Regions from separate parts of the Homo sapiens genome. Here region 2 is linked to region 1. The links come from fine-mapping of genetic effects on gene expression. Tissue or cell type: whole blood. Region 1 holds a variant in brackets; the other region holds the start of a gene. All regions are shown on one strand. Distances are from middle to middle.

The links. PIP is the estimated chance that this variant, and not a neighbour inherited with it, causes the effect.
Region 2: it holds the start of UTS2, and the variant in region 1 is fine-mapped to the expression of UTS2 in whole blood (TOPMed, PIP above 0.99).

Annotation. Positions count from the first base shown.
Region 1 is chr1:8,113,516-8,121,618 of GRCh38, forward strand. ERRFI1-DT (ERRFI1 divergent transcript) reads left to right here. Exons shown (of 3, transcript NR_185980.1): 3 at 7,959-8,103. Among named protein-coding and RNA genes, the nearest start is that of ERRFI1-DT, 91 kb to the left of the region's middle. RefSeq lists enhancers at 2,079-2,579, 7,592-7,901. The variant C/T (reference allele first, on the strand shown) is at 3,923.
Region 2 is chr1:7,849,602-7,857,704 of GRCh38, forward strand. UTS2 (urotensin 2) reads right to left here and starts at 3,464. Exons shown (of 4, transcript NM_006786.4): 1 at 3,300-3,464; 2 at 1,211-1,321; 3 at 39-82. The coding sequence starts at 3,402. RefSeq lists an enhancer at 2,984-3,672.

The sequences.
Region 1 (8,103 bases):
CATAAGCCTCAGGACATCAAGGTATTGACCAGGTTGAGTTCTTGTCTCAAGGCTGTAGAGGAAAATGCACTTTTTTTGTTTTTTTTTAATCTTCAATTTATTTTAAGTTCAGGGGTACATGTGCAGGATGTGCAGGTTTGTTCCATAGGGCAATGTGTGCCATGGTGGTTTTGCACAGATCATCCCATCACCTAGTTATTAAGCCCAGGATCCATTAGCTATTCTTCCTGACGCTCCCCCTCCCCCTATCCCCGCAGGGCCCCGTGTGTGTTGTTCCCCTCCATGTGCCCATGTATTCTCAGCATTCAGCTCCCACTTATAAGTGAGAACATGTGGTGTTTTGTTTTCTGTTCCTGCGTTCGTTTGCTGAGGAAAATCCACTTCTGGGCTCATTCTTGTTGGCAAAATTCAGTCCTTTGTATTACAAGACTGAGGTCCCCTTTCCTTGCTGCCTGTCAGCTGGGGACTGTTCTCAGCACCCAGAAGCCGCCCACATCCCTACCACGCGGCCCGTTCAGGCCAGCAGGGGTGCACAGAATCCTCCCGTGCCGCCCCGACTGCCTGTTCTGTGACCATCTGGAGAAAACTGTCTGCCTTGAAAGGGCTCATGTCACTAGGTCAGGCCCACTGAGTATTTTCTCTATTTTCATGTCAACTGATTTGGGACCTTAATTACATTGCAGCTCCTTTTCACAGCAGTACCTAGATTCACGTTTGGTTGGATAACTGGAAGACGGTATGTGTATATCAGGGGCCTGGAAATTTGGTGGGGCGGGTTACATCTTAGATTTCTGCCAAGCACACTGAGATTACAGTTGTGTGTGTGTGTATTTTAAGATGACTCTACACTGACTTTTGGGGGGAAATATTTAAAAAATAATTTAAAAATTGAATAAGTTACCAAATAAAAAGCGCATGTAGCCGGGCACGGTGGCTCACGCCTGTGATCCTAGCACTTTGGGAGGCCGAGATGGGTGGATCACCTGAGGTCAGGGGTTTGAGACCAGCCTGGCCAATATGGCAAAACGCTGTCTCTTCTAAAAATACAGGCATTGGCCAGGCATGGTGGCACATGCCTGTGATCCCAGCTACTCAGGAGGCTGAGGCAGGAGAATCGCTTGAACCTAGGAGTTGGAGGTTGCAGTGAGCCCAGATGAGATCATGCTACTGCACTCCAGCCTGGGCAACACAGCGAGACTCTTGTCTCCAAAAAAAAAAAAAAAAAAGAGCACATATAGACCACAGAGTATTTTTAGGGCAGTGAAGACACTCTGTATGATACTATAATCAGTGGATTTATGTCAATATGCATTTGTCCAAATTCATAGAACATATAACACCAAGAATGAAACTAATGTGAACTGTGGACTTTACTTAATAGTGCTGATTGGCTCAGCAATTGTAACGAACATGCCACACTCATGCAAAGTGTTAATAACAGGGGAACTGAGTTGGGGCATATGGGAATTCTGTACTTTTGGCTCTGCTTTTCCTGTACACCTAAAACTATTAAAAAAATAATAAAGTCTACTAGTTAATTAAAAAATCAAGGCTGGGTGCAGTGGCTCACACCTGTAGTCCCAGCACCTTGGGAGACCAAGGCAGGTAGATTGTGTGAGCCCAGGGCAGCACAGCAAGACCCCATCTCTATAAAAAATTTAAACATTAGCTGGGCATGGTGGTGAGCCCTTGTAATTTCAGCTACTCAAGAGGCGAAGGCGCAAAGATAGCTTGAGCCTAGGAGTTTGAGGCTGCAATGAGCTATGCACACGCCGCTGCACTCCAGCCTGGGCAACAGAGTGAGACCCTGCCTCAAAAAAAAAAAAAAATTCAAACAGCACAGAACTAGTATATGATGTGAACATCTTAGGCCATTATTGGGCACCGAAGAGGCTTTGGGTTGCATTTCTTCACTCATCAGCATGGGTAAATCATTGCAGAGCTTGAGTGTGGACACCACCAGGGGAAACAAGGTTGGGAGTAGCAAGGAATATGGGAAACAGAGACAGTGAATGGGACCTGATAGTGAATAGAGCCGGCTCAGCCGGCCTCCCGGCCTGACAGTGAATAGGCTGGCTCAGTTGGCCTCTGGGCCTGACACAGTCTATGTGTCTTAATTTTTTTCAGTAGCCCCAGTGTTCAGAGCTTGCTGGCTGTGATGTCACACTTTCCTTGATGATGGGATTGCAGTCATCCTCGCGCCTACCTGCCTGGCTGCAGGAAGCTCTATTCACTTCTAGGCTGTTCTCCCCAGGGCCACTTCCTTGTCTGCAAATCCATGTGAGCCAGCCCTTGTGCTCTGATTCCAGACTTCACCTCCTGGATTCCTGCAGGCTACCTCTGCTGCTTCCCAGACCTTTCCCTCCCATCCCTCTCGGGGTGAGCTCTGACCAGGCAGTAACTTTCAGCAGGACACCGCTGCACGCTTTGGAATCACAGAAGGCAATGACACCACAGAATGTAACACTGGATGCCAGACGCGCCTGCCTGTGAGTCCCAAGGCCTGAGTCTCTTTGGAGAGTCGGTTCCCCACTGGTGCCTCTGTGCATGCCATGGCCGGCCACATGTGGGACGATACAGATGACACGTGTGTCACACCAAGGCAGGATCAGAAGAATGTTTGAGATTTCAGAAAAAAAATTCAAGAAGTCATTATGGGAAGACCAGAACTTTGAGGGGTCAGAGTTGTTGGCGCTTAACCTCTTAAATTTTAGTTTACGATATTAAAAACTTAGAGGGCGGGTGAAGTGGCTCATGCCTATAATCCCACACTTTGGGAGGCTGAGGCAGGCGGATCACTTGAGGCCAGGATTTCAAGACCAGCCTGGCCAACATGGCGAAACCCCGTCTCTACTAAAAATACAAAAAATTCGCCAGGCGTGGTGGCGCACATCTGTAGTCTCAGGAGGTGAGGCACGAGAATCACCTGTGGGAGGCAGAGGTTGCAGTGAGCCAAGATCGCGCCACTGCACTCCAGCCTGGGTGCCAGAGTCAAGATTCTGTCTCAAAAAACAAAAACTTAGAGATTCCTTGTTTCTCTTTTAAAAAGTCAGATGGTGTCGTGACAGTGTGCATTGGCACCAGGTGTCTGGCGCTGGGCAGGGCTGTCTTTTCGGGCAGATGTGCTCTTTTGAGCTCACCAAGGCCCCTCCACGCCCCACAACCTGGATGATGACACCATCTCATTTTTTAGGCTTCATATTAAGGGCATTGGGTGTTCCCAATTAGCAGGTTGCGCTGGTGGCCAAAAGTATTTCTCAATCACGTAGAGTTTTTCTGGGACCTTCCTTGTTCATGGCTGAGTAAAAACAGGCCCTACCATCTAATCATTTAGACTCTCCTTTTGTGCCCTTTCTGCCCCAGGGTCTTGGAATGTGAAATTCCTTGAACAGCCATAAAAACCATAAAGTTGAAACTTTTCAATATCAATAGAACAATCAGAAAGGTGCCTTTTCTGGGTCTGTTTTAGAGTTGACTCAAAAACACAAATTCTAATCCCGCAGAGAACTGCTTGTGTTGAAATATTTACAGAAGGTCAGGGGTTTCTCCTCCCGCCTGGAGCAGAGAAGTGAAGCTGTGGGCCGTGGTTGAGCGAGGCTGGCCTCTCAAGCCTTGTTTATTCTGGAAATAACTTTGGAAAATGCCTCATATGGTTCCCCAGAGGCCTGGAGGTGGGCCTGTACAGTTCACGACAAACGAAAACAAACCATTCCTCTGCAATGTTTAGCAGAATTTATTAAAAAGATCTTTTTTAGAACTTCTAGACAGAGCTGATGGACTAGAAATGAACTTGCAAGTGTGAGGAAGTCACTCCACGGAGTGACACACACGCAAAATAAATAAATAAATAAATAAATAAATAAATATATAGTTCACCCAACTTTGTAACTGATTTAGATGGTGGAAATTTTGTAAAGTCCAC[C/T]GCAGCACAGCAGTTTGAAAGAGACACTTGTTTGTTTTCATCAATCCCCAGAATGAAATCATTCCCCGAGGACCGGGTTAGCTGCTTCCTTCCCGGCATGGCCCTGCCTCTTTAAACTCATTCCCGGGGGGGACGAGACTGTTGCCTGATGCAGCAGGGGCAGCCAGCAGAAGCACTCCTGGCTGCTGGATGAAGAAACCTTTACATCCCAGGATCCCCCTCTGAGATCAATGAACAGATGGGTTTTCACAACAAGCTCTGTCTCAAGGCAAGCCTTATGTACGTTACCGACCGTGGCCGTGATGTCCAGCCTGCAGCATCTTTTTTTTTTTTTTTTTTTTTTTTCTGAGACGGAGTCTTGCTCTGTCACCCAGGCTGGAGTGCAGTGGCGCGATCTCGGCTCACTGCAACCTCCACCTGCCGGGTTCAAGCGATTCTCCAACCTCAGCCTCCTGAGTAGCTGGGACTACAGGCACCCGCCACCATGCCCGGCTAATTTTTTGAATTTTTAGTAGAGACAGGTTTGCACCATGTTGGCCAGGATGGTCTTGATCTCCTGACCTTGTGATCCACCTGCCTCAGCCTCCCAAAGTGCTGGGATTACAGGCATGAGCCACCCGCCTGGCTGCATCTTTTGCATTCCTAGACACCTGACTCATGGAGCATTTATGAGGGCCTGGTTGCCTCTGAGGGTCTCATGCTTTTTGTCAGCCTCTCTCTCTGCCATTACTCTGATAAATCTCCCCCCTCTGCCGCTCTGTTCTCCTGAAGGGACCAGTTCTAGGACCTGGTGTAGGGTCTGTGGGACCCAAAGTTCACCAATGAGTTCTTCCTTGAGATTTTTTAAGCAGGACCTCGGAGAGAAAATCCACGTTCCTCCACACTCTTGGAATTTTTAGGGCGTGGGCCTGGCGGCTGTTGATAGACAGGGCTCCTGCGGAGGAAAGCCTCTAAGAAGCCTCAAACCCCAGCAGTCCAGCTGAGACCATTGTGTTGTCCCAGTGTGTGACAGTGAGGGGACACTCAGGACACACAGAGTCGTGGTGGAGCGAAGCTTCTGGGCCCGCACCCTCCTCATGTGAACACTATGTCTGCCTTTCCTGCAGTGTGCTCACCTGGGCCTGCACGGAGCTCTTCTCGCCTAAGCTGGTTTGAATTCAGTTGGCATCACTTACAATGAAAAGGGTCTTAAAGATAAATATGCACATCAGTGAAATGCTCCTTTATGGTCTAAAAAAGAAGGTCAAACTTTCATGTTGATAAGAATTATTTGAAATTTGAGGCCGGGTGCGGTGGCTCACAGCTGTAATCTCAGCACTTTGGGAGGCCGAGGCGGGTGGCTCACCTGAAGTCAGGAGTTCAAGACCAGCCTTGCCAACCTGGGGAAACCCCATCTCCACTAAAAAATATAAAAATTAGCCGGGCATGGTGGCACATGCCTGTAATCCCAGCTACTCAGGAGGCTGAGGCAGGAGAATCGCTTGAACCCAGGTGCTGGAGGTTGTGGTGAGCCAAGATTGCGTCACTGCACTCCAGCTTGGGCAACAGAGCGAGCCTCTGTCTCAAAAAAAAAAAAAAGAAAGAAAAGAAATTTGAATGTGTACATCTAGCCAATGATGGGAAAAATCTAAAAAAAATTAAATACAAAGTGCACATCTTTGGTCTGGCTGCAGATTTATTCATTGCAGCTTTTAAAAAGTTTACATTCTTTTCCAAGTATAAAACCCTTTTTAAAAAAATGTTGTAACGATATTATTGTGACAAGTGTTGGCATTTATTGAGTGTTTACTATGTGCCAGGCACTACTTTATATTTGCATTGGCTCTTTTCATCCTCACAGAAACCTGTGAGTCCCTACTGTTATCTCCCTCTTTTTGTAGATGTGGAGACTGAGGCACAGAAAGGAAAGGTTAAACGGTTTCTCCCGAGTTACACGGCTAGTAAGTGGCAGAGGTGGGACTTGAACCCAAGTGCCTCTGCAAAGTTCAGGGACTGGGCTTTGAATATAGAAATATTTAGTAAGTATTGAAAACCATTAAATTTATTTCACTATGACAATCTTATTTATGACCGAATTATCCATTTTTAATTTTTATTTGTTTATTTTTGAGATGGAGTCTCACTCGGTTGCCCAGGCTGGAGTGCAGTGGCACGATCTCAGTTCACTGCAACCTCTGCCTCCCAGGTTCAAGCAATTCTCCTGCCTCAGCCTCTCGGGTAGCTGGGACTACAGGCAAGCACCACCAGACCCAGGCAATTTTTGTATTTTTAGTAGAGATGGGGTTTCACCATGTTGGCCAGGCTGGTCTTGAACTCCTAACCTCAAGTGATCTGTCCACTTCAGCCTCCCAAAGTGCTGGGATTACAGGTGTCAGCCACCGCGCCTGGCCCATTTTTAATTTTTAAAAAATGTTTTTTACTGTCGAGTAGGGGTTCAGGACAGACTGCCCCCAAATATGCCACTTTGGAATGTTGGTGATTTTGAGCAGAAAGCACTGGAAAACAGTAAATGCAGAGACATGGTTTCCCTGAACTCCTCTCATCTGCCCAAAGGCAGAGCCTCCAAAAGGACATCAGTTGTCCTAAGTCCCCTCCCCAGGAGTCAGCAAGGGCTGCCTTAACATCCGGACAAACTGCCACAAACCCTCGTATCTCCCATCTAGTCTTCTAAAGGCCCATTTTTCTTTCCTAAAAATCATTTCCTCTCCTCACGGTAGCCCACATCTCCTCTCCCTTTTCTCTGTTAAGATGGCATCACTTTTTTGTGATATTGTTTTTTTCTTCCTATGATGGCCCCTGTGCACATATTAAAAATTAATAAATTTGTTTACCCTTTTTCCTGTTAAATCTGTGTATTGTCAGTGTATTTCCTAGACCCAGCTATCGAACCTAGATGGTAAAGTCTTTCTTCCCCTGACTCTATTTCAAAGCAATAAAAAAGTTTAAAATGCCCCAAAAGACATAGTTTACTCTATGATTGGATTATTAGAAGACGTTAGCCCAGGGAGGTTCTACTCTGTTTTTCAGGGGTGGAGCTGGTACTAGAATTCACAGCCTGGTTTTCATCCCAGCTGGGCCATTCCACAAATGGAACTTTAAACAAATACTTCTCCTCGAAGTAGAAGCTGGGTTGGGGTCTGGTCTTGAAGGATGGATCTGAAATGGCGGAGGAGAGCCTGGCGAAGCCCTCCGGCCTCCTTCCCAACGGGTCCCAGCTTTTTGCCACTTCCCTACCTTGTATTTGGCTACTAAGGAATCTAATCTGTCCAGTTTTTTATCTTGGTCATCCATAGTGTTCTATAGATCACATAGAAAGATGGTTACAATGTTCAGCACCTCTTGCTAAACATCCTGTCCTGGAGGCACATGGAGAAGGTTGACAAAGCCTCATTCCTCTGAAACATTTCATGCAACGGATTTGGTTGAAACCCCAGATTGTGATCTGGAGTCTTTAGCAACTGTGCTCATTTCCTACCTTGAGCATTTCATTTTTGAGCAACTAGAATAACAACTGGTCTTTTTTAGTCTTGACCAAAGGGGGATAAGGGAACCAAAAATCCTTTGCTCCTCGTTTCCTGTTAGATTGTGAAACAAAAAGGTAAACATTTAACGGAATGTGGCAGCTCAGAACAATTACCCCTATTGTGGCATGAACACTGATTTCTATTCCTTTTTACACAAACTCCTTCCGGTAGAGAAGCTGAACAAAAGAACGTGCCAGCCCAGCCCGTGGGCTCCTCAGGCCGATCAGATCGGGAAGTGAGAAACGCCGGCAGAGATTTGCTCTGGGAAAGTTTGTAGACATTTTCAAAGTCAAGGGTGAAGTGTCCTTGGTTTACTTAGAATCGTTTTCTTTAAAGGAAATCACTGTCACAACTTCAGAAGCCCCGACATGCCTGTGTAGTTATGAGAAGGGATGAAGGCTTCGCATAGCTTCATAACCTTGTTATTAAGAGTCTGGAACTCAGTGACTGGCTGGGTGCTTGACCCTTTGTTCAGTAGCCTTGGCAAGTGCTCTCATTTTCTTCCTTTTTAGGTTTCCCCACTGCGAGCCCTTCGAGAACAATGTCATGTTGATCGATGGCAGTGACTCACACCAGATCTTTCCATGCCTCCTCTGCAAGGACTCAAGAGAGTCGAGAGCAAAACCGTGCCATAGTTCCATAAGGAGGGCAAAGAGC
Region 2 (8,103 bases), 260 kb before region 1:
CACCTTTTTAAACCTAACTCATAAATAGAGTCACTTACCTTTCTCAAATTTCCTCTTGGGTTAAAAATGTTGGTACTTGAGTCTGAAAAACAGTTTTGAAGCCAGTTCATCAGATCTGTTGTTTCTCTTGTATGCTTGTTTTAAAATATACAAAATAATATTACTAAATTATGTCTAGTTTCTGGTCTTTTTCCACACTGCAGCAAGCTTTTCTTGAATGCAGACAGACAGGCACTCCTGTTCTTATCTCGAATTCACAGAAGTCACTGCATTGTCCTCAGTAACTTCGCAGTCCAGTAGCTCGTCAAAGATATTTTATAACAAATGAACTCCTGTCTATTAAACAATACCTATCTTAAAAGGCTCAAATTTTTTTTTTTTTTTTTGAGACAGAGTCTTGCTCTGTTGCCCAGGCTGGAGTGCAGTGGTGAGATCTTGGCTCACCACAACCTCTGCCTCCTGGGTTCAAGCAATTCTCCTGCCTCAGCCTCCCTAGTAGCTGGGATTACAGGTGCCCGCCACCATGCCCGGCTGATATTTGTATTTTTAGTCGAGATGGGTTTTCACCATGTTGGCCAGGCTGGTCCTAAACTCCTGACTTCAAGTGATCCGCCCACCTCAGCCTCCCAAAGTGCTGGGATTACAGGTGTGAGCCACCGCACCCAGCAAAAGGCTCAATTTTGTTTCCAGAACTTCCTGAGCATATGTGTCAATGCTTGGGGGAATGTGGCCACGGGGGAATAAGCTGACATTTTATTAATGACTTTCTGTGTGACTCGAGCATTTTACTTGCCTTGACTCATTGACTCTTCACAAGTTACCTTCTGAGGTGGAAACTTAATCATTCCTGATTACAGATTAAGAAACTGGAGTACAGAAAGATTACTTTAAGTTTTCAGTAAACGGGAAACTAGGATTTTAAATTGCACTCACTGGAAACTGGAATAATTACCACCAAGCTCTACCCCGCAAAAATAAAAGTCCACACAGAAAGACAAAATGCTGAGGTACCAAAGAGCACAGTGCGAGCAAGGAGCTGCTGGGGAAAAGAAGGTTGCACAGGCCGGGAGGGGAGAGTGTTGGTAATTACTTATTTTATATAGCTCATCTTTATATTCCAAAATAGAGCTTTACCTCTTCTAGATGAGGACAGACGGTAAGTTCAGTAGCAATTAAATCAGACACGCTATAAACATGAGAAGCATTTTACCTGCTTTCCTGAGAATATCCCCTCTTTCTGCACCCAGCATCTCTGGCAGTATCTGTAGAAGGGAAGCTCTTTCTAGCTCCTCCGGAGTTAAGCGCGCGTCTTCATGAGGTGCTACAGAGTAAAAACAGATACTTAGAATTGGGTTCATCCTTCAGTTAGTTATTTCTGTTCCTTGTGTCTTTGGCGAGCACCAGAGATAGGGAGATGAACACTAGAAAAACTTCCAACGCTGAGTTCATGACGTGTCATCAGTGGTATTCTAGAAGAGGTGGAAATGCTACCAGCCCGTGTGCCAGCCAGCAGAATGGGAAGCCGGGAGACGTGGATCTGACACCCGCGTGATGAGCCAAGCCCCTCGGCTGCCTCGAACAAGAGCTGAGGGATAAGCCACAGCCTTTCTCAAAACCATTTTGGTTCAAAAAGTCTGACTCTCCCTCATTTCTGCTTATCTACTGCTGCCTACTGCCTTTTTGCTTTTAGATATTTGGGTGGTGACATTGGAGAGGAAAAAGAAAGATCGTTTACAATCTTCCTATAAAGCCAGTAGGATGGTATCACCTCTTCTTTTACTGAACTTCAAGATTTCAATACAATTATTATACTTAGAATTGGCTTCAAAATCATCTGTAAGGAACTTGATTGTGGCATTTCCTATGTGAAATGTGGTCGACCAGATGGCATATAGAATGCATGGTAAGTGCGCTTAAGGTGTGTGGAAAGGGCACACCGGAGTGTGAGGCGTGGTAAGTGCAGACCTGCTGCTGTGTTGCGATTCGAGGCTGTGGGAGTCAGGGTGGGAGGCCATGTGTGGGACCAGCGTGCCACAGGCTTACAAATAGCTGCAACCTTGATTGGAGGACAGTGAGCAGATCATCATAAAGGCATCAGAGCACATTCACAGCACTTCTAAAGACTGTTAATGAAAATCTATAAAATTTCATCATCTGTAAATGCTGATAGGAAAGCACATTTCTGGAGAAATAAATGAGAACAAATTCTGCGATAAGCTGCCACTTGTTTCGAATTTGTGTGAGATGCTACACTCATTTCATCTATGTTTCTTAAATTACTTGTAAAATTTTTTAAGATGACAGTAGTAGCTGAGTATTTTCACTTATTTCATCTTGAGATGTGTGCTGTTTCTTTGTAAATAGCAGAGATTCAGTAAAGTTAATGCCAGTGTTTAACTATTAGTAGGACAGCCAATGATCATCTCGGTGACTCGGGAAGTTGGTTGGCAGTGCCTGATGACAGTGCTTGACGATCATCAGAAAGCTGCTTGGGATGAACTTTTAGAGACGAGAAACTATAAAATCCTTGGCTTAAAAGAGGGTTTGTTTGTTTTTTTTCTTTATTTAAAAAAAGCCTATTTAAAAAGTACTCAAGATTAAAGATAAGATTAAATCTAGTTAAGTTTTTGATGGAACCTAATCCCCAAGCATTAGCTTTCTCATTTCTCTAACTAAATGGAAAGATAATGGCAAAATGAGAAACTACTTGACTGATGTGTATTTCTTTAACTCAACTTAGACTTAAACTGAATTAACATAAATCAAAAGGAAACGATCAATATACTTGGAAGTCTATGAACTCCCTAGTTCCCTAGTTTGTCATTTACTAAAAAATTTTTAGTAAACATTTTTGTTTCGTAGAACACATATCAGATGATTTTTTTAAACAAAAGGTGAAACAAATAAATCCATTAATAATCTATAATTAGAACAACCAGTGCTACATTCAACCAGTTCATTTAAAGTAAAAACTAAAAGTAATGATGTTTTAAATTTCATGCAATTTTTAAAATTGGAAAAATGTATATATTACCCAAAACAAGAGTACAGAGGTAACATGAAACAAGCAATTATCCTCTTCTCCTTTTACATTGTAGAGACAGAAAAAAAACTGTATCCATTACTACATCTAAAATGTGCAGTAAGGATCCTTTAATATTCTTTTCAAAGCTGGGACTATTGAGAGAACAAGACTCCAGACTCCTTCGAGCAGGAATCCCATTCTTATCTCTAACATTGAATTTAAGACTAGTAAAGGCTCTTTCAAGACTAACATAAGGGGAAAAAAAAAATCTTACCTGAGAGTTGAAAGGATATTTCCCTGGAGTCAAGGAGAGGAAGAGATAAGAGAGGATTTAAGAATCCTATGAAAAGCAAACAGCAGGAGGCCAGCTTATACATGATCGCCACAAGATAGACGGCTTCCTTCTTGGCTTCTGTTGTAGAGAACTTTCAACTGTCTCCTCATTCTGCCTGCTCACTGATTATATATATCATCCTATGACCTGACATCATCCTCTCCAAAAAAAAAAAAAAAATGAATTTATTGGCTATGGAGGCTAAAAGGCAATCACTTTGCATTGATGTAATTTTTCAAGGTAACAAGTCATAGACAATAAATTAACTGTCTTGTTGCCTAGTGTACAAAGTAGGTATTATATAAAGAACAGTGAGTTTATAAATCTGGCAAAAGAGGCAACTTACAGCAATAAATCATGAATTAAAGGAAGGCTTGGATATGAGTTGAAGTGGCCAAAGCAAAGAGACGTGGATTTATGAGTCCGAGCAGAAGTGACGCAGAGCATAAGATGAAATACGTTGGTTTCCATTTTTTAATCTTTCATGAGTGAGTAGATGAGTTGCCATGCTGTGTTTAGGGCTGCCATCCCTGAAGAATGACAATCTGTGGATTAAAACGTAAAACCAGCTATTTCCTTTAAAACAGTGAAAAGTTAAAATACATAGCAAACATTGCTCCAGGCTCAAGACAATTCTGTACATACACGTGGCCTCATGTGAAGCCGCAAGCACTTCAATCTTCAGAGAAAGGAAATAACTTCATAAAGTTGATTATTATTCAGCAAGGAGGGAGGAAGGACTTAACACCAGAAAACTCGCTGATAAACATTTCCAGAATGTGGCCTCTACTCCCAACTGTACTCTGCCCAAGCTGGTCCAAGCCCGGATGGGTGGAAAGGTCCCCGACAGGCGTCCTGAAGTCTGCCTTCGGGCCTGCCACAGGCTCAGCACAGCAGAGTGATGCCAGAAGCATCTGCATAAGTCAGATCATGGTAGTTCTTTGCTCAAAACTTTCTGTGGACCTAAACACAAAAGTTACAAAGATAGGCCAGGCACGGTGGCTCATGCCTGTAATTTCAGCACTTTGAGAGGCCGAGGCAGGAGGATCACTTGAGTTTAGGATTTCAAGACCAGCCTGGGCAACATAGAGAAACACTGTCTCGGCCGGGTGCAGTGGCTCACGCCTGTAATCCCAGCACTTTGGGAGGCTGAGGCGGATGGATCACGAGGTCAGGAGTTTGAGACCAGCCTGACCAACATGGTGAAACCCCGTCTCTACTAAAAATACAAAAATTAGCCAGGCATGGTGGCACGTGCCTGTAATCCCAGCTACTCAGGAGGCTGAGGCAGGAGAATTGCTTGAATCCAGGAGGCGGAGGGTGCAGTGAGCCAAGATTGCGCCACAGCAGTCCAGCCTGGGTGACAGAGCGAGACTCTGTCTAAAAAAAAAAAAAAAGAGAAGGAGAAACACTGTCTCTACCAAAAATACAACAATTAACCAGGTGTGGTGGTGCATGCCTGTATCACTTGAGCCTGGGAAGTTGAGGCTGCAGTGAGCCAAGATCGTCCCACTGCACTCCAGCCTGGGTGACAGAGCGAGACCATGTCTCAAAAAAAAAAAAAAAAAGAAGAAAGAAAAGTGGTTACAACGTAATGATAGAACTACTAGGGGAAAAAACATGAACACCTTCACAACCTCAGGTTAGGCAAATATTTCTTAGACAAGACACAAATCACACAGGAAAAAAATTGAGACAGGAGGAATAAGTTCAAGAGATCTATGTACCTCAGGGTGACTCTGATTAATAACAATGTATAGTTGAAGATTTCTAAAAATCGATTTTGTGTTCTCATCACAAAAAAATGCTAAAAACGTGAAGTAATACACATGCGAATTAGCTTGATTCAGCCATTCCACAATGTATGCATATATCAAAACATCAAACTAATAACAATAATAATAATAATAATAATCATGGCCAGGCACAGTGGCTCACACCTGTAATCCCAGCACTTTGGGAGGCCGAGGCAGGTGGATCACCTGAGGTCAGGAGCTCAAGACCAGCCTGGCCAATGTGGTGAAACCCTGTCTCCACTAAAAATACAAAAATTAGCTGGGCGTGGTGGCAGGTGCCTGTAGTCCCAGCTACTTGGGAGGCTGAGGCAGGAGAATTGCTTGAACCTGGGAGGCAGAGGTTGCAGTGAGCCAAAATCACACCACTGCACTCCAGCCTGGGTGGCAAGAGCAAAACTCCTTCTCAAAACAAACAAACAAGTCATGATGTATACCATAGATACCATTTTTGTAAATTAATCAATAGATGAACAAAACTGATAAATTGGACTTTATCAAAATTAGAAACATTTGCTCAAGATACTGGTAAGAAAATGAAAAAGCCGAGCAAGGCGCGGTGGCTCACGCCTATAATCCCAGCATTTTGGGAGGCTGAGGCGGGCAGATCACCTGAGGTCAAGAGTTTGAGACAAGCCTGGCCAACATGGTGAAACCCTGTCTCTACAGAAGATAAAAGAATTAGCCAGGCGTGGTGGCGGGCCCCTGTAGTCACAGCTACTCCGGAGGCTGAGGCAGGAGGATAGCTTCAACCTGGGAGTCGGAGGTTGCAGTGAGCTGAGATCATGCTGCTGTATTCCAGCCTGGGCAATATGACAAAAGGTTTGAAAAGGACTTCAGGCTGGTCTTGACCTCCTGGCCTTAAGTGATCCACCTGCCTCAGCCTCCCAAAGTGCTGGGATTACAGGTGTGAGCCACCACATCTGGCCATTATTATTATTATTATTATTATTATTTTATTATTTTGAGACAGGATCTCACTCTGTCACCCAGGCTGGAGTTCAGTGGCGTGATCATGACTCACTGTAGCCTTGACCTCCCAGGCTCAAGCAATTCTACCTTGGCCTTCCAAATAGCTGGAACCACAGGCACATGCCACCACGCTCAGCTAGTTTTTTTTTTTTCAGATGGGGTCTCAATGTGTTGCCCAGGCTGGTCTCAAAATCTTAACCTCAAGCAATCCTCCTGCCTCAGCCTCAGCCTTCCAACCCTCTGGGATTACAGGCGCAAACCACCATGCATGGCTTTTTTATTTTTTGTACAGACAGGGTCTTGCTATGTTGCCCAGGCTGGCCTCAAACTCCTGGGCTCCAGAGATTCTCCTGCCTCGGCCCCCGGAAGTGCTGGGATTCCAGGTGTGAGCCTCCACACCTGGCTATCGCACTATTTTATGTATTTATCCTTTATAGTAGGCAGACTCGATAAATATTTGTTGAATCAGTGAGTGGGGCACCAGCCTATGGGAGTCTCTGTTTAGGGGAAAGAACGGTGAACAAAATAAAAAGTTTCTACTCTCATGAACTTTCTGACTGGAGGCGATAGACAACAACATTAACATACGCTGTAGGAATTGTTTATTGCTATGAAGAACAATAACAAGGAGACAGTACAGGGGCAGGTAGTCAGGGCAAGTGTGATTTCAGACAGGGCCCTCGGGATGCCCTGGAAAAGGGGCATCTGAGCAGGAGCCGAAAGGAACAGGGCAGCCATCCGTTCAGTGGTGAGTGGAGTGTGGAGCCTCCAGCGAGAGAAGTCGGGGAAGCGTGGCCTCCGAGGAGGAGGAACTGAAAGAAGATTCCTGCGAGGGCAAATAAAGTGAAGAGAGTCCCTGGGGGACCCCTGCTGGCAGGAGAGCCCAGGGCGAGTGCTCGCACACTGTCCTCTAAGATGGAAAGTGCTCGAATCACTTAAGACTTGTTAACTCTTTCGACAGATATTTCTCAGCACCCCCATGTGCCAGCAGGGTCGGACAGAGGACGGAACCTAACGTCCAAGAGAAACCACTTCCATCCAATTTAAGAAAACAGCCGGGCACGGTGGCTCAGACTTGTAAGCCCAGCACTTTGGGGGGCCGAGGCAGGTGCATCACCTGAGGCCAGGCGTTTGAGACCAGCCTGGCCAATATGGTGAAACCCCATCTCTACTAAAAATACAAAAATTAGCCGGGAGTAGTGGTGGGCGCCTATGATCCCAGCTACTTGGGAGGCTAAGGCAGGAGAATTGCTTGAACCCAGGAGGTGGGGGTTGCAGTGAGCCGAGATCGTGCCATTGCACTCCAGCCTGGGCCACAAAGGAAGACTCTGTAGGAAAAGAAAGAGAGAGAGAGAGGGAAGGAAGGAAGGAAGAAAAGGAATGAAGGAAGGAAGGAAGGAAGGAAGGAAGGAAGGAAGGTGAAGCATGTTGGAAAGACACTGGATAGCTTCCAGAATCCCAGGAAAAGTGGAGGAGCAGGGACCAGGATCCCACTGGCCTTCTGACCTCTGCCCTCTGCCCTCAGTGACTTGACTCCTCCCTCTTCCCTCCTTCCTCTCCCTACTCACCCTTGCTCTCCCCACAATCCTCCATCTCTCCTGTAATTCAACCTTTTGGCCTCAATGCCCTAAATAAGTGCATTAAGTATCAAAATGTAATTTTGGTAACCATTAAAATAGTAACCAAAAGATTATAAAAACTTGGAAAATATAATAAAAGAACTAGAATATCAGGTAGTTACTACTATGTTAAAAAAAAAAAAAGATGAGCTTGTGGGCAAGCACTGGTGGTGTCATTTTACAGAATTGAAAATAAAGGGATTTTTTTCTTTTCTTAAAATGTTTTGATGCAGCATGGTGGCTCCCACCTGTAATCCTAGCACTTTGGGAGGTTGAGGCAGGAAGATTGCCAAACCCAGGAGTTTGAGACAAGCCTAGGCAACCTAGTGAGACCCTGTCTCTACAAAAAATACAAAACTT